3 separate regions of the Homo sapiens genome follow, and all the other regions are linked to region 1. Evidence: fine-mapped expression QTL. A gene starts in region 1. Each other region holds a variant in brackets. All regions are shown on one strand. Distances are from middle to middle. Region 1 holds the start of SULF2 (sulfatase 2). Region 2 overlaps SULF2 (sulfatase 2). Region 3 has its middle 97 kb from the start of SULF2.

Evidence for each region. PIP is the estimated chance that this variant, and not a neighbour inherited with it, causes the effect. A credible set is the group of variants that fine-mapping cannot tell apart.
Region 2: its variant is the best candidate, but not a certain one, in a credible set for the expression of SULF2 in whole blood (INTERVAL, PIP 0.74).
Region 3: its variant is the best candidate, but not a certain one, in a credible set for the expression of SULF2 in testis (GTEx, PIP 0.51).

The regions. Positions count from the first base shown.
Region 1 is chr20:47,781,504-47,788,403 of GRCh38, reverse strand. SULF2 (sulfatase 2) reads left to right here and starts at 2,923. Exons shown (of 21, transcript NM_001387048.1): 1 at 2,923-3,061. It overlaps LOC124904920 (a long non-coding RNA gene), which reads right to left and starts at 2,650. Exons shown (of 2, transcript XR_007067618.1): 1 at 2,242-2,650; 2 at 1,519-1,999. It overlaps LOC124904921 (a long non-coding RNA gene), which reads left to right. Exons shown (of 3, transcript XR_007067619.1): 3 at 988-1,064. RefSeq lists enhancers at 1,636-1,805, 5,905-5,964.
Region 2 is chr20:47,733,066-47,739,965 of GRCh38, reverse strand. It overlaps SULF2 (sulfatase 2), which reads left to right. Exons shown (of 21, transcript NM_001387048.1): 3 at 3,024-3,263. Among named protein-coding and RNA genes, the nearest start is that of SULF2, 49 kb to the left of the region's middle. The variant A/G (reference allele first, on the strand shown) is at 3,351.
Region 3 is chr20:47,878,831-47,885,730 of GRCh38, reverse strand. No RefSeq gene overlaps it. Among named protein-coding and RNA genes, the nearest start is that of SULF2, 97 kb to the right of the region's middle. The variant G/A (reference allele first, on the strand shown) is at 3,876.

The DNA.
Region 1 (6,900 bases):
GAGCCATGTTCAGGAACTCGAGGACCTAAGGGCACAGTGTGGTAATGCAGTGGGGTTTTTTTTAGACTTTTTTTGCCGTGGAAATTTCCCCACCCCTGAAATATTCTCCAGAACCCAACATAAAAAGTAGGAGGGAGGCAGATCCCATTCCTGGGCCTCCCTCCACCACCCCAGGCCCCAGAAGCACCACCAAGGGGCCCTGAGGATTCAGTAAGAAAATTGCTTCTGCAGTGGGGTACATGTCCCCAAACCAGGGACAGCATCAAAAGGGTTGAAATCCCACTGGCCAAGTTTTTGACTATAGGCAAGACCCTTTATCTCTCTGAGCATCAGTTTGCTTGAAAGATTGTCAGGAGGATTACATGAAATGACCCGGTGGAAACAGCCATTGACCGCAGAACCTGCCAGAGTTGCACTGTCCAGCATGGGACCCCTGAGCCACATGTGGCTGGTCCCAATTGAGATGTGCTGTAAGTTTAGAATGTACACCAGATTACAAAACTTAGTAAGAAAAAATAATGTAAAAATATCTCATTAATTTTATATTGATTACATGTTGAAGAGATCGATTTTGGATATACTAGGTTAAGTAAACTATATTATTAATATTAAAATTAATTTCACCTGCTTTTTTCAGACAGGGTCTGACTGTCACCCAGGCTGGAGTACAGTGGAACAATCATGGCTCACTGCAGCCTTCACCTCCCAGGCTCAAAGTGATCCTCCCACATGAGCCTCCCGAGTAGCTGGGACCACAGGCACATGCCACTATGCCCAGCCTAATTTTTGTATTTCTTGTAAAGATGGAGTTTCACCATGTTGCCCATGCTGGTCTGGAACTCCTGAACTCAAGTGATCCGCCCACCTCGGCCTTCCATACTGCTGGGATTACAGGCGTGAGCCACTGTGCCCGGCCCTCACCTGTTTCTTTTTACTTTCTAATGCCACTACTAGAAAATTCTAAATGATATATATGTCCTTCTGCAGAGATGAGGCGGAAGGAGAGGGGTCTCCATTATTTTTCGGTCTATGATGGTGAAGCCTGACATTCTGTCCCAGGGCAAAGAAGGTGGGAGCTGTTCAGCCTTATCAGTGATGCCAAAGGTAGGGCCAGCACCTGACTTGGAAAAGCAAGTGCAAGGTTTTTCTGATTTATTTAGGCTCTAACTTGATTGGCGTGGCTAACAGAGGTTATGGGGAGGAGCCTAGAGCTCCAAACCCAGTCAGGAGATCCGATTTGAATTTCAGATTTAAAAATGAATGATTTTTTAGTACTAACTTCCTCCCCGTGGATGTCTATATTTATTTGTTAAGTCTGACAACTCTACCATGGAGGATCATATCAGAGAAAGGAGATGCTAGGTTGAAAAGTAAAAACATCCTAGGATTTAAGAGCATGAGCCGGGAGCTAAGGCTTCTTGGCTTCACAGGATCCACCACTTATAACTGTGTGATCTTCGGACAGTTACTAAACCTCTCTTGGTTTCCATGGTAAAACGGGCATAGTAACTTACTGTGTGAGATTGTCACAAGATTTAATAAGTTACTGCTGTTTACAAGTGCTTTCCCACAGCGGCGTCTGTTTCCCCTTAGCTAGCAACTCGGCTGTGTTTTCTGCAGCTGCTGGTGAGTTCTCTGCCCGCTCTTTGCCCACCCGCGTCAGGCCGGTCCCCCTCCGGCCTCTTCTGTGGCGCGAGGGACAGCGGAAACCACGGTAGACAGCACCCCCTTGAGTCCAATTCCTCCCCTTTCGGAGGAAGCCGGTTTCTCCTTTCTATGCTACTCCCGGGCCATTTCTGGACAACAGCTGCTATTTTCACTTGAGCCGAAGTTAATTTCTCGGGGAGTTCTCGGGCGCGCACAGGCAGCTCGGTTTGCCCTGCGATTGAGCTGCGGGTCGCGGCCGGCGCCGGCCTCTCCAATGGCAAATGTGTGTGGCTGGAGGCGAGCGCGAGGCTTTCGGCAAAGGCAGTCGAGTGTTTGCAGACCGGGGCGAGTCCTGTGAAAGCAGATAAAAGAAAACATTTATTAACGTGTCATTACGAGGGGAGCGCCCGGCCGGGGCTGTCGCACTCCCCGCGGAACATTTGGCTCCCTCCAGCTCCGAGAGAGGAGAAGAAGAAAGCGGAAAAGAGGCAGATTCACGTCGTTTCCAGCCAAGTGGACCTGATCGATGGCCCTCCTGAATTTATCACGATATTTGATTTATTAGCGATGCCCCCTGGTTTGTGTGTTACGCACACACACGTGCACACAAGGCTCTGGCTCGCTTCCCTCCCTCGTTTCCAGCTCCTGGGCGAATCCCACATCTGTTTCAACTCTCCGCCGAGGGCGAGCAGGAGCGAGAGTGTGTCGAGTGAGTGTGCGTCTGTGTGTCCCGGCGAGGGTGCGCGCTCGGCGCCGGGAGCGCGGCCAGCCGAGTCCGGAGGCATCGGGAGGTCGAGAGCCGCCGGGACCCCAGCTCTGCGTTCACTGCCCCGTCCGGAGCTGGACTTCGGGGCCGGGGCCGGGGCCGTGCGCCGGGGACAGGCAGGGCCGGGTCGCGGGCCGCGCGTCCCCCAGGCCGGAGGTAAAAGCGCTAGCGCGCGGAGGGCTCGAGGAGGGCACCGCGGCTGGGCCCCCCGCGCCCCGGGCCCCAGCCGTCCGCGGCTCCCGGCCCGACGCTCCCCGCCCCGGAGCGCGCCCGCCTCCCCTGCGTGGAGGCCGGCGGGCAGGCGAGCGGGGGGCGGTAGCGCCGTGCCAAGGGGCTGGCTGGGGCAGCGTGGCCGGCCGGGCTGGGGCGATTTAAGAGCGGTCCGGGCGGGGTGCGGAGCCGGACTTTGGCTGGGGCGGCGCGCGGGGAGGGGGCCGGGGGCGGTGGCGGCGGCGTTGGGGGGCGGGGAGGAGGCAGGAGGAGGAGCAGCAGCGCTCGCCGGGGGATGCAGCAGCGGCAGCGGCGGCGGCGGCGGCGGCAGCGGCAGCGGCGGCGCGGAGTCCCCTGCGCCCAGCGGCCCGGCCGGGCTGCGGCAGAGGCGGCGGCGGCGCCCCGCTCCGGGTGAGGTTGCCGGGGCCGTGCGCGCTGGTGAGTGGGGCGTGGGGGGCAGGTGGGTGGCTGGGGGACGCGGGGCTCGGGCGGGGGCTCGCGGCGGCCGGAGCCTTCCCCGGCGTGAGCCCGGCCGCGAGCGCCGCCCAGGTGAGCCGGGGCTGGTCCGGACCGCCCGGCTCCAGCCCCAGCGCTGCTTGCGGAGGTGGGTCCGGGCGGGCGGGAGGGAGGCTCCGGCGCCGGCCGTCCGCAGAGGGATGACCTGTTTGACCCCGCTGGCTGGCGGGCGGGCGAGGACTTCCCGCCGCGCCCCTGACCCGCGGACACGGCACACCGAGCACAGGCGGCCCCGGGTAGGGGAGCGCGCCTGGGCCGGCCATCCGCAGGGGCATGGCCTTGTTGACCCTTAGGGTTTAGACCCAAGGGACCGGTAGATGCCAGCCCACGTGGGGCTTGTCCGGGCAGGACTCGGGGAAGCAGTGGGCCGGATCTTCAGAGTGGTTGGAAACTCGCAGACACCGAAAGGACAAACAGGATCGAAAAGGCAGACTTCCTCCCAGGCCAGGGCAGAACGAGTTTCCATCGCCTGGCGGAGGGATGCTCCCCTCCCCGGCTCCTCGGGGTTTCAGAAGTCTAGCGGTGAATTCTAGGAGTGCACTTTTCCAAACATTCCTTATAGTAGTTCGTTCATTCGTTCTACAAGCATTTCTGGAGCACCCCCTCGTGCCGGGCACCGCGTTCTGTTCCAGGGAAACGCGGCTGAACAGGATCTGGCTCCTGCGCGCCAGAAGCTGCCGGTTCACTGGGAGGGCAGCAGGGTAGAGAGATGCCGTCTCGGGGTGGAAGATGGAAAGGGAAGCCTGCAATCCTAGTTTGCACACTGGCCTCGGTCCGCAACTCCCCCACCTGCACGCAGTAGGCCCAGCACACAGTAGGAAGAGCAAGCCAGACCTGCCTGTGACGACCCTCTCCTCCTCCTCCTCCCCCTTGAAAGCTTTGATTCATTCCCTGCCCCCCTTTCTGGAAAGTCTTCCTGCAGCTTGTTTTAATCACTTTTTGAGTTAAAAGTCAATATTTAATTAACCAAGTAATTACATTCAGCTTACGTTTCAATCTGGGTATTTGCTCATCTGTGCGTGTTGGGACACCCGCCCTCTCGCCCCTCCATCTGTCCCCTGCCTGTTTCCCACCGGGTCCACCCCCACTTTTGGGGCAGAGAAGGGGAGGCTGCGCTGGAGCAGGTTCTCAGGGGGAGACAGGGAGCAGGAGAGACGGGCTTTCTCTGGAGGACACCCCCGGATCTGCGCGCTCTCCAAATTTCAGCTTGTAGTGAATAGTGAAGGTGATTTCTTGACAGCCTCTGCCTCCCATTACAGAACCACCAGAGGGTTCTAATTAAATTAGAGCCAATCGTTAAGTATAGGAACGGGGTAGGGAGGACAGAACGAAGGGGGCCCCTTCCCTGTAAGAGATGTTCTCCCCAGCTTCGTCTCTCCCACATCATAGAGAAGAGAAAACTCATCCAGACAGCCTGTCGGATGTGTAATTTAGCGTTCTAATAAGCAGCTTGAAAGGCGAAGGTGGTGGGCTTGGCAGATGGCATGTTGGACCTTTGTACATGAAGGCCTCTTCCTTCCCCAGCTAAATTTATATACATAAAGGCCGTGATGTTGGCATCACTGCTGCAGCTGAGGGTCAATGTGGGTTTGGGGTTTGGGCTTTGTGTGTACTTCTTGGGTTTTTTATTTGAATTTATGGCTTTTTCTGAAACCCTAATAACATGTTAAATTTTCAAACTTGAGAGTAGAGTGATGAGTTGACTGTAAAAGTCTGGTCTTGGAGGAGGACAGCATAGCAGTGTGTGTGCATGCACGTGCATGTCCCCCAGTTCAGCTGCTGTCCAAAGAACCCAGTTGATATGCAGTTTCACACCTGATTTGGACCTGATTTGGGAGATAACATTTCCTTCTCACTTTTTCTGGCACTGGTTAGTTTATCTGCTTGGACCTGCCTCAAGAGGGCAGCTGGGTTAACCAGGCAGAATATCACCCAACTCTGTCAAGCTTTGGCCATTATCTGACCTTAGACTTTAGTCCTGCAGAAGGAGTCCAGAAGCCCTGTCCTACAGAAAAATATCAGCATTTCTGACCAGCTTGTAGTTAAAAGAAAAGGTTTAGTCCAGACTTAAGATAATTGGTAACACTTAAGTAGTTTTGTATGGGCCTGATCTGAGGCATTGATCTAAGCCCTTATACCTTACTCATTAAATCCACACAAATACCCTGTTAAGTAAGTACTGCCATTGTTGCCATATTAAAGATGAGGAAACAGGCACAGAGAGGATTGTGACTTGCCTACAGCTGGTCACAGGTAGAGCTGGGATTCAAGAGGCCCTCAAGCTCCGGGGTCCACTTGGAACCACTGGACTCTCCTCCATGACCTTGGCCTTTGTCCCAGATGTAGAAGAAACACATATGCAGGGGAAGAAAACACCTTCAGACAGTCAAACTTTGCAAAGTAAAAGGCCCTTAACTTTCCATAAACCCCCACTGTTCCGACAGAGAGTCCGGGTTTGTATTTGAGGTTTTTTGCCCCAAGGAAAACATGTGTCTGCCTGGTGCTTTTTCTTCTGCTTATGAGCAGACACACTGTCCCCTCCCCCAGTCAAAATGCAAAGGGAAACATCAAATGCAGCTGATGGAAAAGCCAGGTGAACCATGGTGAAGATTTCAGCCCACTCAGAGCACAGTGGCCAGAGAGCAAAAGCTCTCCTAGAGGTGAGACCTTCCTGTGGTTGGTGATGGAGTCTCGATGGCCTGGCCCTGGGGGTGGTGCCAGGGTGCTCTGTGTCAGGCCTGGGCGGATGTGGAAGATGGGGGCCTCTCTCAATGCTGATCTGCAGGTGAGGGGGCCCTCCCTGAAACCTGCTTTCTCTGGGCCTCCTTGGAATGGGCCTTGGTGGAGATCTACAGACAGCCCTGGCCCAGCCGGATTGAAGGCACTGTCTAATTGGGAGGGCATTAAGATCGTTATAATTAATTGGCATCCCGATAAATGGCATGGTTGCCTAATTGGGGTGGTTGCTAGGGAACGAGGCCTCACTTGGAGCCTAAAGGGGAAGAAGCGCTGGGCTGGCCACAGTTGGGTGTCAGGGTACAGATCCAGCAGTGAATGGACCGGAAGGGAGAGCAGTCCATCCGTATCTGCTGGTGTTTACTGAGCAGCTGCTGTGTGCAAGTTGCAAATGGAGTATCAGTTAGGGGTACTTGCCTAGAAGAACTGTAAAGTAATCAGGTTCCTTTCTCTTGCAAGCAACGGAAAAAGAGAAGAAAAAAACTCAAGCCAGCTTAAGGAGAAAAGAAGTGGACTTACTGGTTTTCATAACCAAAAGTCTTAAGGTGACTAACTCTAGCTTCAGACACAGCTGGACCCACAGCTCAGATTTTGTAATGAGAATCCATTCCTATCCACCGCTCCTCTGCCTTCCATGAGGCTGATGTCTCTCCAGCTCTGGGGCGGGCAGTCCCTGGCAGCTGTGGGCACCGTGGCTAGGAGAGCCAGACTGCCTGGCTCCCTGCCCAGCAGTGGGATCTGGGGCATGCTACTTAACCTTTCTGTGCCTTGATGTTCACATCCAACAAATGATGATGATCATAGCACCTGTCTCCTGCTTGTGGTAAGCATGAAATGAGATGATCAATGTCAAGTGCTTAGCAGGGCGTCTGACCCAGGTGAGCCTTCAGTAGGCATTGACTGTTACCATAACTTAGGTGTCAGGACAGATGTCATGGAGCAGAGGGGTCTCATCCCCTCTGGTTTAAGCCCAAAAGGAAAGAACAAGCCTCTGATCTGGCAATGCACACCTGAGCCCCATGGTT
Region 2 (6,900 bases), 48 kb after region 1:
ACTGTAGGGAGCACGGGGGAGTGTGGCAAACTGGAGAGCACATATCCTGTGTGATGCTATTTAATGTCACATTTTTAAAACCCACTCTACAAGACACCAACACACAGGTCTGTGGACACCAACTGGTTTGGATTCCTGAGATATGAAAACCCGAGTGTAAGATAGTATTTTATATGTTAATTTAGCTGGTCTCTGTTGAGCACATTATGTGCCAGGCACTGTGCTAGGCAGTGAACAAAGTAGGCTGAGTCTCTGCCCTTGTGGTGAAGGCAGCAACATACAAATAAGTGAAATCAAAATGACTTATGTTTGAGGACAGTAACTGCTGTGGAGAGACACGGAGCGGGGAAGCAGAGTGGAGAGTGCTATGGGTTGCGGGAGGTGGTTTCAATACAGGCCAGGGAAGGCCTCTCCAAGAAGGTGGTGTCTGATCAATAACTTGAAGGAGACAGAGGTAGCCCTGTGATTGGAGGAGTGAGAGCATCCCAGGCTGGGGGTACGGCTGAGGCAGGGGCCAGGAGGTGGGAGGGCGGCCAATGTGCAATACTGGGACCTCAGGGGCACGACCTTGGTGCCTTGATTGGTGGTAAAAATTTAAAGTAGAAGCAGCTGATTGCTGAGCAGAGGGCCTTCCCCAGATCCCAGGAGGCTGCAGTGGGTCTGATGCTTGTTTTCAGGTTTCTAGGGGGTTGCTAGGTGATTGGGATCACAGCCTTCACATGCCTGGTAGACCCTGTTTTGGTTTCCCACTGCTGTCCTAACAGATCACAAACTGGGTGGCTTAAAACAACAGAAATTTACTCTCTCAACAGTTCTGGAGGCCGGAAGTCCAAAATCAAGGTGTTAGCATGGCTGTGCTTCCTCAGAAGGCTCTAGGGGAGAGCCCTTCCTTGCCTCTTCCAGCCCTGGGGACCCTAGGAGTTCCTTGTTCCTTGGCTTGTATGTGCATCCCTCCAGTCTCTGCTTCCCTTTGAATGTGGCCTTCCCCTCTGTGCCTGTGCGTCTTCTCCACTTTGTGTCCTATGTGGACACTTGTCACTGGATTTAGGGCCCACCTGGGGAATCCAGAACAAATCTCATTTCAGTAGCCTCAATTTAATTACATCTGCAAAGACACCCTGTATTGGTCTGTCTTCATGCTGCTGATAAAGATATACCCGAGACTGGGTAATTTAGAAAGAAAAAGAGGTTTAATGGACTTAGTTCCATGTGGCTGGGGAGGCCTCAGGATCATGGCAGAAGGTGAAAGGCACATCTTACATGGCGGTAGGCAAGAGAGAATGAGAACCAAGCAAGAGGGAAAACCTTTATAAAACCATCAAATCTCGTGAGACTTATTCACTACCAAGAGAACAGTATGGGGGAAACAACCCCCATGATTCAACTGTCTCCCATCAGATCCCTCTCACAACACGTGGGAAATATGGGAGCCACAATTCAAGATGAGATTTGGGTGGGGACACAGCCAAACCATATCACCCTCTTTCCAAATATGGTCACATTCACAGCTTCCAGAAATTAGGACATGGTCTTATCTTTAGGGGACGGGGGCACCGTTCAACCCACTGCACACCTTAAGAACTGCAAGGAAAAGGGGAAAAACCAAGGATGGCCATAGAAGAAGGAGAGAGGGTTTCCATGGAATATTTCCATCAAATCACTAAGGGTCTGGGTACCAACCACAGCATACAATTGAGCATGCACTCGTCACACCTATGTTGAGTACCCACTGTGTGTCACACACGGCAGCAGTGCTGAGGATTCAGCGCTGAGCGGAGCACACAGCCTTTGCCCTCCTGGGACCTTGGCCTGCACGCAGTAGGGCTCCCACACACGTTCATTTGCTTCCTTCCTTCCTTCTTGCCTTTCTTCCTAAGTGTCTTGCTCTGCTTACAGCTTGGTTGAGAAACAAGAGCAGGCATGGCCAGGCAAGGTGGTTCATGACTGTAATGACAGCACTTTGGGAGGCAGAGGCAGGCGGATCACTTGAGGTCAGAAATTCCAGACCAGCCTGGCCAACATGGCGAAACGTCATCTCTACTAAAAATACAGAAACTAGCTGCGTATAGGGGCTACTTGGGAGGCTGAGGCAGGGGAATCGCTTGAACCCGGGAAGCAGAGATTGCAGTGAGTCAAGATCACACCACTGCACTCCAGCCTGGGCAACAGAGCAAGACTCTGTCTCAAAAAAAAAAAAAAAAAAAAAAAAACAAAGAAAAGAAAGAAACAAGAGCAGGCATGACCGAAACCTCGAAGCCTGGGGTATGATCAGTACTCAGGACACATGCTGCAAGACTGCTCAGAGCTCTCAAGCCCAGGGTGGTGCCAGAGGCTCCCTACGAGAGGGTACTAGGCCGATGGGTTGGATTTGGGGTGAGGGGTGGTGGGTTCCAGGCTCGAAGAAAAGTGTGGACAAGAGGCCAGCAGGGTTTGTGGCTGATGGCAGAGCACCTCAGCCAGGGAATACTCAGGGAGAAGGTTTGCCACCAGGTTGGCATGACCAGATTTCAGTAAGAGCAAACAATTATTGGGAAAGTTCCAAAGAAAAGAAAGTATAATCTTCCCTCAATTTACATGGTGGTTGGTTTCCAAAAGAAAAAACAAAACAATGTATATTAATACCCTGCAAAAACAATGTTGTGTTTAAAATTTGTAAAACAGTTTGATTCCAGTCTCAGGTCATTTATAAACAGGTTTTTACCTGCCTTGCAGGTAGAGATGCAATTACAGTACCGGACAGTGACAGTACAGTCACTTACAGTCACTCACCTCCAGCACCATTGCAAAATCCTCCAGACTCCAGACCTGGACCTCAGGAGTGTCCAGGTGGACTCGGGACCCAGGGTCCTTCCTGATTATGCAGGACAGTCCCACCGTGCAGCAGTGGCCCCTGCCCCGTCTGCCCCGTAGGTCTGCAGAATGTGCCCACTCCAGACCTAGGGATGCCACGTGCTGAGAGCCCCCTGGTGCCGGTGCCGCCCGGGTCTCCTGCCCTGCGCCTTACTTCCACCCTTGACTTGCAGGTTCCATGCAGGTGATGAACAAGACCCGGCGCATCATGGAGCAGGGCGGGGCGCACTTCATCAACGCCTTCGTGACCACACCCATGTGCTGCCCCTCACGCTCCTCCATCCTCACTGGCAAGTACGTCCACAACCACAACACCTACACCAACAATGAGAACTGCTCCTCGCCCTCCTGGCAGGCACAGCACGAGAGCCGCACCTTTGCCGTGTACCTCAATAGCACTGGCTACCGGACAGGTGAGCAGGGACGGGGGCAGGTGCAGGAAGGGAGTGACAGCCAGGGCGGGCGTCCCTAGGTGTGGTCTGCACACCACTGCGGTACCC[A/G]AGTTGATTCTGGATAGCCCCTAGAGCAACTCTCTTATAATTTCAGAGTTGTGCATTTATTTCTGTGTGTATTAAAGAAATACAGATTTATTTGCCTACAGTAGTGATGTAAAGTGACCTTGTCAAAGGAATTTGAGTCCCCCAAAAAAGTGAGTCTTTTCAAACTATGAATCATAGTGTGGAGAGGCCATAAGGTGCCCATGCATGAGTTTGCATCCTCTGTTAATAGTTATTAAGCCCATCAGGGACTGTTTCGTTGACTTCAAACCATTAGCTTGGAAGAAGGTTCCAAAACATAGGGGTGGGGGATGGGAATTCATGGAGGGGAACAGATAATGGGGCTGTGTGGTCGCTTTCTACGTGGCAGTAACCAAGGTGGTGCAGAAACTGACATGGTGGTTGACTGTCCACACTCACCCGTGTCATCCTGGGTGGAGGGCGACCCAGTTCCTGTTTGCTTATCCTTCAGGAGGTCTTTGGTGGGCTCTGAAGGCTCACCTGCCAGGCTGGTTGTCTGAGGTAGAGATGCAATTACAGTATAGTCACTTACCTGTAGCGCCATTGCAAAACCCTCCAGACTCAATTCATTTAACTTGCTTTAATTAAAAATAAATAAATACTCCCCGCCTTGGGTAAGAAGCCGCGGCGGTTGTGAAATCAAGATATTGTGGCTCAGATGTTGCAACCCCAGGAAGTTGCATCCAAGTGACAAGGGGTTTGTTTGGGTGGGAGTGCCGCAAGGGAAGGATGGACTCCTCCTCCAGCCCTGTCCGCAGTGCTGGACCTGCAGCCCTCGAGGCTGGGCAGCTTCCTCTCAGATACACAGTGTGGGCTGGCAGGGATGCTTTGGTGTGGGGAGCAAGCCAGTAAGGTGTGTCTTCTTACAGCCTCATCCCATAGCCAGAATCACCTAGAAAGTATGTTCTGCTGAGAACTAGGAAGGCCTCGTTCCTATACCTTGTTCCTGTGTATTGTGCGTGCCATTATGCAGAATCAACCACCTGTTGGTTCCCCTGAGCCTCTGCAGAAAGCCACATGTGTCAGAAGTTACCATGGCCACCACCCTAGATGATTGGCGGGGGCCTGGATGTTGCTAGCAGAAGCAGGACAGGCAGGCCCGCAGCACAGCAGTGGGCCCTTATTGAAGATGCACCTGCAACTTGGCTCTAGAAAGTACAGCCATGCACTCAAGAGTGACCAGCCTTGAAATGTTTTAAAGTCTGAATATTTCACTGAAAATCTTATTTTAAAATATGCCGGCACAGCTTATTTTTTCTTTAATGTATACTGGGGGCCAAAGAAAATATGTCTGAGGAGTGAGTGTGTGGCTCACAGACTCTCTTTTCACAACCTCTGGGTGAAAGGTCTGTACAGAAACCTTTCGTTTTGGATGCTGGAAGATCAGTAAAGACCCTAGACCTGTTCTCATCAATCCCCCTCATTTCACAGCCAGGGCCACTGCAGCCCAAAAAAGAGACCTGCCCAGAGTCAAAGTGAGGTGTTTGTGGCATAATCAAAATGGAATGCAAGATCATGGGAATTCAGAGGGGGCATGGAAATAGTATTCATCAGACTGAAAGGAAACTCATATATTCTGTGCCATTTTGAGGGCTCAGGGTGGGAGCTAAAGGCTAGTGTTTCAAAATCTTACAGGCGACATGAGAAAATCAATCATTTCAAGAATAAACATTCTCTAAAGTGGATTTCCCAAACTTGTCCTTGAATGTATGCAAATCACCAAAAAGCTGTCTCCCTAAATAAGTGCTTTTATTCAACTATGATTCATTATTATACCCTCATGAAGACTGGGAGCGTAATGTCAAGTGTAAAGAGCCAGATACCGAGAACATTTACGTTTTTGTAAAACTGCCACTGAGAATTTTATTCATTATATTTAGAATGCCACTCTGTACAAAGAATCCCATTCCAGCCTTACTTTCAGAACTCAGGACCCTGAAAACACCTGTTTAGTCTGATGAACTGGTGTACTCCTTGTTATTACATAATAAGAGCCACATACCCTGTATAGTTTCCCTCTTTGCCCTGGCAGCTAGGAAGCTCAGGTTTGAGTTTTATATTGAGTTGTTGTTTAAAGTGGAAATGTTTTTAAAGATCCAACTGCGTGATATGTTATACTGATCAGTGTTGACTAAGAAAAATGACAAAAATCTATAATGAATTCAAAACCTTTTAGATTATTTTTTCCTTTTAGATTGATTTGTACATACATATTAGAATATACTGTAAATTTTTAATCCCCCAAGGACCAAAAGTAAATTGTTCCTGCTGAGTCTTCAGCCATGTTAAACCCTGTGTTCACGTGGCCACCTAGCAAAGTTGGTTCAGTTGGATTTAAGTTTGGCTGTGTGTGTGAGAGAGACCGGGGATGTCAAATAAAATTCCAAGTTGTTCTGGTGGCCCTGCTCTATGAAGTGGTCAGAGACTCCGACTCCATTTCTCCTTATTTCCCATTGGTGAGAAACAAGTCATATGGCCATGCATGGCAGCAAAGGGGCCTGGGAAATGTAGTCTTATTCTAGGTGGACATTTGCCCAGATGAAAGTTATTTTACTGTGGGAGAAGAAGAAAACGGATACTGAAGGACAAGTGAAGTCTAGGCCACCCTAACAGTTATTAGCCATTTGTGTTTGTGATACTCGTTTGAATAGAGGAGATCAGCCCAAACTGAGGAAGACTGACCCCAGAAAAATGCTACTTAAGTGGACCAACATTTCATAATAAATAGTGCTTTTAATGTATTTAGTAAGGTATTTGATCTTGAAATGAAACTACAATGTTTCGAGAATAACTCTGTTATGTTACATCTCTTTTTTTCTTTTTCTGAGACAGAGTCTTGCTCTGTCACCCAGACTGGAGTGCAGTGGCACAGTCTCAGCTCACTACAACCTCTGCCTCCTGGGTTCAAGCGATTCTCCTGTCTCAGCCTCCTGAATAGCTGAGATTACAGACGCCTGCCACTACGCCTGACTAATTTTTGTATTTTTTGTAGAGATGGGGTTTTGCCATGTTGGCCAAGCTGGTCTCAAACTCCTGGCCTCAAGTGATCCACCTGCCTTGGCCTTCCAAAGTGCTGGGATTACATGCATGAGCCAACGCACCCGGCCCTCTGTTAGGTTGCATCTAATGATATTTAACAAATATTGGGCTCTAGTTGCAACTAATGAGTTGATTCTTCAAGCAAGTGAATTGACGAAGTGTAGGGAGGAATATAATGTGTTTCACAAATTGAAATGGATGGCACAAGATGATATCCTTTACTTCACTAGGGACATTTTTGCAAAAGTATTTGAGGATTTGATCAATTTTTTCAAGGGCCTCTCCTAATTCTCTGACATCTGAATCTTCCCCTGTGAAGTGCATCTCATACTTCATCATCCTTCTCAATAGTCTCTTCTCCTTCATGTAGTATCTTTATAGACCAGGTAATTATTCGTCAGTGGATTTGCATGTGTTTTTTGAGCTATCTTCCAGCGTCATTTTAATTAATTTTACAAACCCTGCATCTTTTAAAATATTTGCAATTTCATTT
Region 3 (6,900 bases), 97 kb before region 1:
AACATGGCAAAACCCCATCTCTACTAAAAATACAAAAATTAACCGGCGTGGTGGCGGGCGCCTGCAATCCCAGCTACTTGGGAGGCTGAGGCAGGAGAATTGCTTAAATCCAGAAGGCAGAGGTTGCAGTGAGCCAAGATCATGCCACTCCACTCCAGCCTGGGTGACAGACTCCATCTCAAAAAAAAAACCACTTGTGAGGAGCATGGAGAGATCTCTGGGGAAGCTTCTCTGTCCTCCTCTTCTTTGGCCACACCAACACAACAGAGTGTGGGTGCAATAGAGGGGGCCTGTGGGACTCAGGGTGTCAACCTCACTGTGGAGTGAATGGCTCCAGAGCAGTGGTTCTGCAGTCACCAAAGCCACCAACACAACCTGGGTCTCAGATCAGAAATGAGCCGGGAACAGAAGGTTGGCAAGCAGGACTGCCTTAGAAAATCTGAGGCATTAAGCCCCTGACAATGCAACCTATTGCCCGATTCTTGCCCAAACTCAAAGTCTTGAAAAGAACGTTGTGGAGAAAGGGGCAAAATGAGGAGAGGAAATAAGGATTCTGAGAAACAAGGAAAGGGCAATGCCACATTCCCTCTCAAACCACCTGGAGTGAATACATGGTTCCCAATGCACCTGGAGACAAATGATGGTAAAACACTGTGCTATGGATTGGAGAGCCTTCGAAATGTTCTCTCAAAATGACTCCTTAATACAAATGTAGACACTATTCAGCAATCCCACAGCCCGAATCCACCGCAGATGGTGCCCTCAGCTTCTCTCTTGTTTCTCTGGGAAAAAATAAAACTGATGTAGAGCTGAAATCCTCTGGCCCTTGGAAGCAGACCATCATAGATTCAAATCTAGCTCCGATACTTTCTGGGTGACCTTGGGCAAGTTACTTAACTTCCCTGGACTTCAGTTTACTCATCCACAAAATGCATGTGATGCCGCAAAAGTTGATGTAACAGTAAAGGAAACGGCACAGATATAACATCTTGTGCCCTACCTGGTAGGTTATGAGATGCTTAGGCCAATAACTGAGGAGGTTAGTTCCCTTCTTTCCCTAGCCTTGGCTAGGACAGCACCAAGCACGGTTTCAGTGTACATTAGGAGGTAACACTGTAAAGAGCTCCTGAGGAGGGCATTCAGAGCAATCATCTTGGATGATCTAATTTATCTCTCTTTCATTCCTAATGCTGCCAATTCAGAGACAGCATAAATGGAAGTGTTTTCCAGAAGTACTGAACATTTGGTCACAGGCTCCTGATCTTTGAAATGGACCTAAGAATTAACTATCTCAGCAGAAATGTGCACTCAGCATCGTGGCAGGTCACATTCAGCAGGCACTCACACTCAGCATCATGGCAGGTGCATTCAGCAGGCACTCACACTCAGCATCATGGCAGGCGCATTCAGCAGGCACTCACTATGTGCCACACTAAGCACATGTTAGCTCATTTCATCCTCACACACCTCAGATAGCATCATGGCAGGTCACATTCAGCAGGCACTCACACTCAGATAGCATCATGGCAGGTGCATTCAGCAGGCACTCACACTCAGCATCATGGCAGGTGCATTCAGCAGCCACTCACACTCAGATAGCATCATGGCAGGTCACATTCAGCAGGCACTCACACTCAGATAGCATCATGGCAGGTCACATTCAGCAGGCACTCACACTCAGATAGCATCATGGCAGGTGCATTCAGCAGGCACTCACACTCAGCATCATGGCAGGTCACATTCAGCAGGCACTCACACTCAGCATCATGGCAGGTGCATTCAGCAGGCACTCACTATGTACCACACTAAGCACATGTTCGCTCATTTCATCCTCACACCCACACTTTCAGGTGGGCATTATTATCAGATCCATTTTACATATGAAGAAACTGAGGCACAGCTAAAGTAACTTATACAAGGTTGCAGCGCTGTAAGAGGCAGAGCTGGGACCTGAGCCCATGGGGTCTGACTCCTGAGCCTGTGTATTCCCCGGGGCACTCCATGAAAGCTCCGAGACCCAGCTCTGAAGGGACAACCAAGTGCCCAAGTTTGTCTTCATCCAGCTACACTGAAGTCTCTCCCTTGCATGGCTCTCTAAGACCCTAAAGTGATTTTTTAGTTTTTCAAAAAGTCTAGAGTAGAGCCATTTCACCAGGGCCTGCCCAGATGCTCCAAAGTCTCCCTTCCACCATCTCAGAAATGACAAGGAAGAGTCAGTCATGGCCGAGGAGGATGAGGAGATGCCCAGTGTCAGGGCTCCAGCCGGATGTCTGATCAGGACCTGAATCGTTGTCCCTTCAACACCCTGTCCTCCACAGCCCATGGTGAGGGCTGTGGGAGGGCCAGCTCCATCCTGGAGCCATGGAGGATGGGCACTGGGTCCTCCAGGACAGAGGAGGTAGCGCAGGCTGTGCCCCATGAGCTGCAGGAGAGACAGATGCATGAGTGTGGGGGACACCCTTGGTTTTCCCACCCAGCACCTGCTGCTCCTTCTGGGTCCTGAGTCCCCTTTGGAAAAGCGACCCCTCCCCAGCTCTCCATCCATGGGTGGGGTGGACCCAGCCCTGCTCGCTCAGTCCAGGGCTTAAGCCTTGCTGTGGCAATTGGTTTAGGGAGGAGCTTGTGAAAATCACCCTTCAAATGAAACTTTATCCAAGGGCTGTTGTATGAATGGCAAAGGAGGCTTCCTTTCCCCTGGGATAGGTAAGCTGGGAGAAGGAAGAGGGGCTCCTGGAGGCGTCATCACCACAAGGAGAGAGCCATCCTCCAAATGCACCAACAAGTCTAAGCAAATGAGCCTGGAGAGACGCAGAGACAGGAAGGCCTCCTGATGTCATCTGAGCACCCGGATGCAGCAGTACCTGAAGGCAGCTGGCCTTTTGTGTTAGTTTTCTATTCCTGTGTCAAATTGCCATGCACTTAATGGCTCAAAACAACACCCATTTATTAGTCCATAATTCTGCAGGTGAGAAGTTCGGCCCAGCAGTACTGGGCTCTGCTCAAAGTCTCACAAGGCTGAGAACAAGGTATTGAGTTCTTATTGGCTCTGGGGGTAAAATCTGCTTCCAAGCTAGTTCATGTTGTTGGCACAATTTAATTCCATTTGGTTACAAGACTAAGGCTCCCCCTTCTAGGTATTCTGAAATGTACAATAGTTTATTGTAAAGTGTAGTCACCCTACTGATCTACACAATACTAAATATTTCTTCCATCTGACTTTGGATTCATACTCATTAATCAACTTCTTTTCATGCCCCCACCCCCTACCCTTCCCAGCTTCTGGTAGACACCAATCTACTTTCTATCTTCACGAGATTCACCTTTGTGGCTCCCACATGGGAGTGAGAATATGTGATATTTGTCTTTCTGTGCTTGGCTTATTTCACTTAAAGTGATGGCCTCTAGCTCCATCCATGTTGCTGCAAATGACAGGATGTCATTCTTGTTTATGGCTGAATAATAACCCATTGTGTATAGAACACTTTTTTAAATCCATTCACCCACTGACAGGCGCTTAGGTTGATTCCATATTTTGGCTATTGTGTGTTGTGCTGCAATAAACATGGGGGTGCAGAGAAACAAAACAAAACAAAACAAAACATGAAAAGACTAAGGTTCCAAGATTCCCATCTTCTGGCCAGGAACCACTCTCGGCTCCTAGAGGCCTCCCGAGTCTTTGGCATTTGGGCCCCTCCATTTTTAAGTCAATGGCATTTTGAATCACTCTTGTGATATGAATTCCTAACTTCTGTCTCTGATCTCTAGGCCCAGATTCAAACAGCTAGTGTGATTAGGTCAGGTCCACCTGCTAATCTGCCTTCTGATTACCTCAAAGTCAATTGACTAATAGCCTTAATTAGATCTGCACAATCCCC[G/A]TTGTCATATGATGTCACAGGAGTAGTAGCCTATTCACAAGCTCCACCCACACTCAAGGGGAAGAGGCTTTTCAAGGACAAGGGTCATTGGGAATCATTCTGGAATCTGCCCACCACACCTCTGGACTCTTCAGTGACGTGAGGCCTAACATTCTTTTGTTTGTTTGTTTAAGGTAACTTGAATTGTTCCTCACTTCAAACCAAAAGAGTAGGCTGGGTGTGGTGGTTCATGCCTGTAATCCCAGTACTTTGGGAGGCCGAGGTAGGCAGATCACTTGATACCAGGAGTTCAAGACCAACCTGGACAACATGGTGAAACCCCATCTCTACTAAAAGTGCAAAAATTAGCACGGTGTAGTGGCATATGCCTGTGATCCCAGCTACTCAGGAGGCTGAGGCATGAGAATCGCTTGAACCCAGGAGGTGGAGGTTGGAGCAAGCTGAGATTATGCTACTGTACTCCAGACTGGGTGACAGAGCAAGACCCTGTCTCAAAAACACATAATAAAACAAACAAACAAAAATGACAGTTATCCATGCAATGGAATATTATTCAGGCATAAAAAGGAATGAAATGCTGATTCATGCTACAATGTGAATGAACCTTGAGAACATTATAGCAAGTGAAAAAAGCCAGACACAAAAGATCACATCGTATATGGTCCCATTTATGAAATGTCCATAACAGCCAAGTCCATAGAGACAGAAAATAAATTAGTAATTCCCTAGGACAGTTGGAGAATGACTGCTAATGGGTACAAGGTTTCTTTTTGGCAATAATAATGTTCTGGGATTTGATATTGAAGGTTGCACAACCTTGCAAATACTAAAAAACACTGAATTTTATACTGTTAAAGTGTGAATTGTATGTGGATTTCGATTTATATCTCAAAAATCAAAGTGAAATGAAGAAACAAAGTGTGTCAGGCTAAAAGGAGAGCAAGAAAATCACAGATGTGGTCTGACTGGGTGAAGCCAGGCTGCATGGCCTCTCTCTGTGAAGACGGAGCCTTGCCTCTGAAGTCATCCCCATCACACTTTTCACGTCATCCCATTCACTGGGGAGGCAGAGGTAAGGAAAATAATCAAATTATTTTTTAAATTTCTCACATTATTGCGGGTTAGCCTGACACACTGCTTATGAAAGCTCTTGCTCAAAACCACCTAATATTTGATAGGCTTGTAAAAGAGAAATTCTCCTGGAATTCATTCCACAAAAGTAAAATGAACGGCTATGATGAGTATTACAAATCAGTCTTAGTGCAAAGGGAAACAGACTTTGGCTGCAAGAACCAGAGTCATCTTTCCCCCTTGAGCAGTTTCCGAAGAGGCCATTCATTAAAAAGTAGTTTGGGCCAGGCGCGGTGGCTCATGCCTGTAATCCCAGCACTTTGGGAGGCCAAGGCAGGTGGATCACAAGGTCAGGAGATTGAGACCACTCTGGCTAACACAGTGAAACCCCGTCTCTACTAAAAATACAAAAAATTAGCCAGGCGTGGTGGTGGGCACCTGTAGTCCCAGCTACTCGGGAGGCTGAGGCAGGAGAATGGTGTGAACCCAGGAGGCGGAGCTTGCAGTGAGCGAAGATCGTGACACTGCACTCCAGCCTGGGCAACAGAGTGAGACTCCATCTCAAAAAAAAAAAAAAAGAAAAGAAAAGAAAAAGAAAAAAAAATAAGTATATTTTCCACTAGAGAAAAACTGTCAAGCAAATGAGATGCAAACTCTCCGGGCTGTGTATCAGACCCATGCAGCGTGTCACCTCTGGTTTCCCCAGCTTCCACTGCAGGAACTGACTCAGCGCAGGTCCACAGGACACCACTGTGTTCCGACTACCTCCCGTTCACCCCATCGGTGAGGGATGCATCCTCGCCCTAAATAGTATGAGATGGCCGAGCACACAACACCCAGCGCTGCACACATGAGACGGGCAGTGGGTCGGCCACAAATACAGCCCGCAGGGGAGGATAACACGCGCCCTGCAGAGCCACAGGGTGTGCACCTGGGAACAGAGAGAACAGGAGGGGCTGTGGGAGGCAGACCTTGAAGTAACAACGGGGTGAGGTACCCCTGGTTCCTGTGGGCAGAGAGGTGAAGCCAGTTAAGCTGAGGACCAGGTGGAGCGTGGCTGCTCCAGTTGACAGGTAAACCTACCAGGTGGGAGTCTTTCCCACTGAGCTGGGAGCATATTGGTGAGGGAAGGGAACTAGTAGTTTGGCCTCTGCAGCCCTGTGAAGCTCAAAGACATCAAGGCCGTACTTAATATTACACTTCAGTTTCAGGCCTTACACCACACACGGCCTGAGACCGACGCCCCAAGATTCTGGATCCTCCACCAATTCTGGATTCAGCTAAGTTGCCACAAAAATGAGCGTGGGATCTGGATTCCCCAGCAGCTGCCAAGGGACTGGGTGATGCACCCTGGTGTTAAGAAAGAGAAGACTCGGCCAGGTGTGGTGGCTCATGCCTGTAATCCCAGCACTCTGGGAGGCCGAGGCAAGTGGATCACTTGAAGTCAGGAGTTCAAGACCAGCCTGGCCCAACATGGTGAAACCCCGTCTCTACTAAAAATACAAAAATTAGTCAGGCATGGTGGTAGGCACCTGTAATCCCAGCTACTCGGGAGTCTGAGGCAGGAGAATCATTTGAACCCTGGAGGTGGAGGTTGCAGTGAGCTGAGATCATGCCACTGCACTCCAGCCTGGATGACAGAGCAAGACTCAGTCTCAACAAGAAAAAAAAGAAAAGAAAAGAAAAGAAAGAGACGACTCCCTGAAGAGCAAACCTGCACCCTCAAGGGAGAGGAAAAAAGAGAGATTAGCTATAAATGGCCCCTCCCAACCATCCCCATATGGGCCATCCTGTGGGGAGCGTTTCTGCACAGCTTGTCTGGAAATGCTCCACGTGACCTGGTGACCAGCTGGGTCTTTGGGAGGCTGTCATCAGCTCAGTCATCACTTCCCAGCCTCCCCACCTCGCTTCCCGTTTCCCCACCCTGGACCCCTGGGGCTGCATCTGCCCCGAA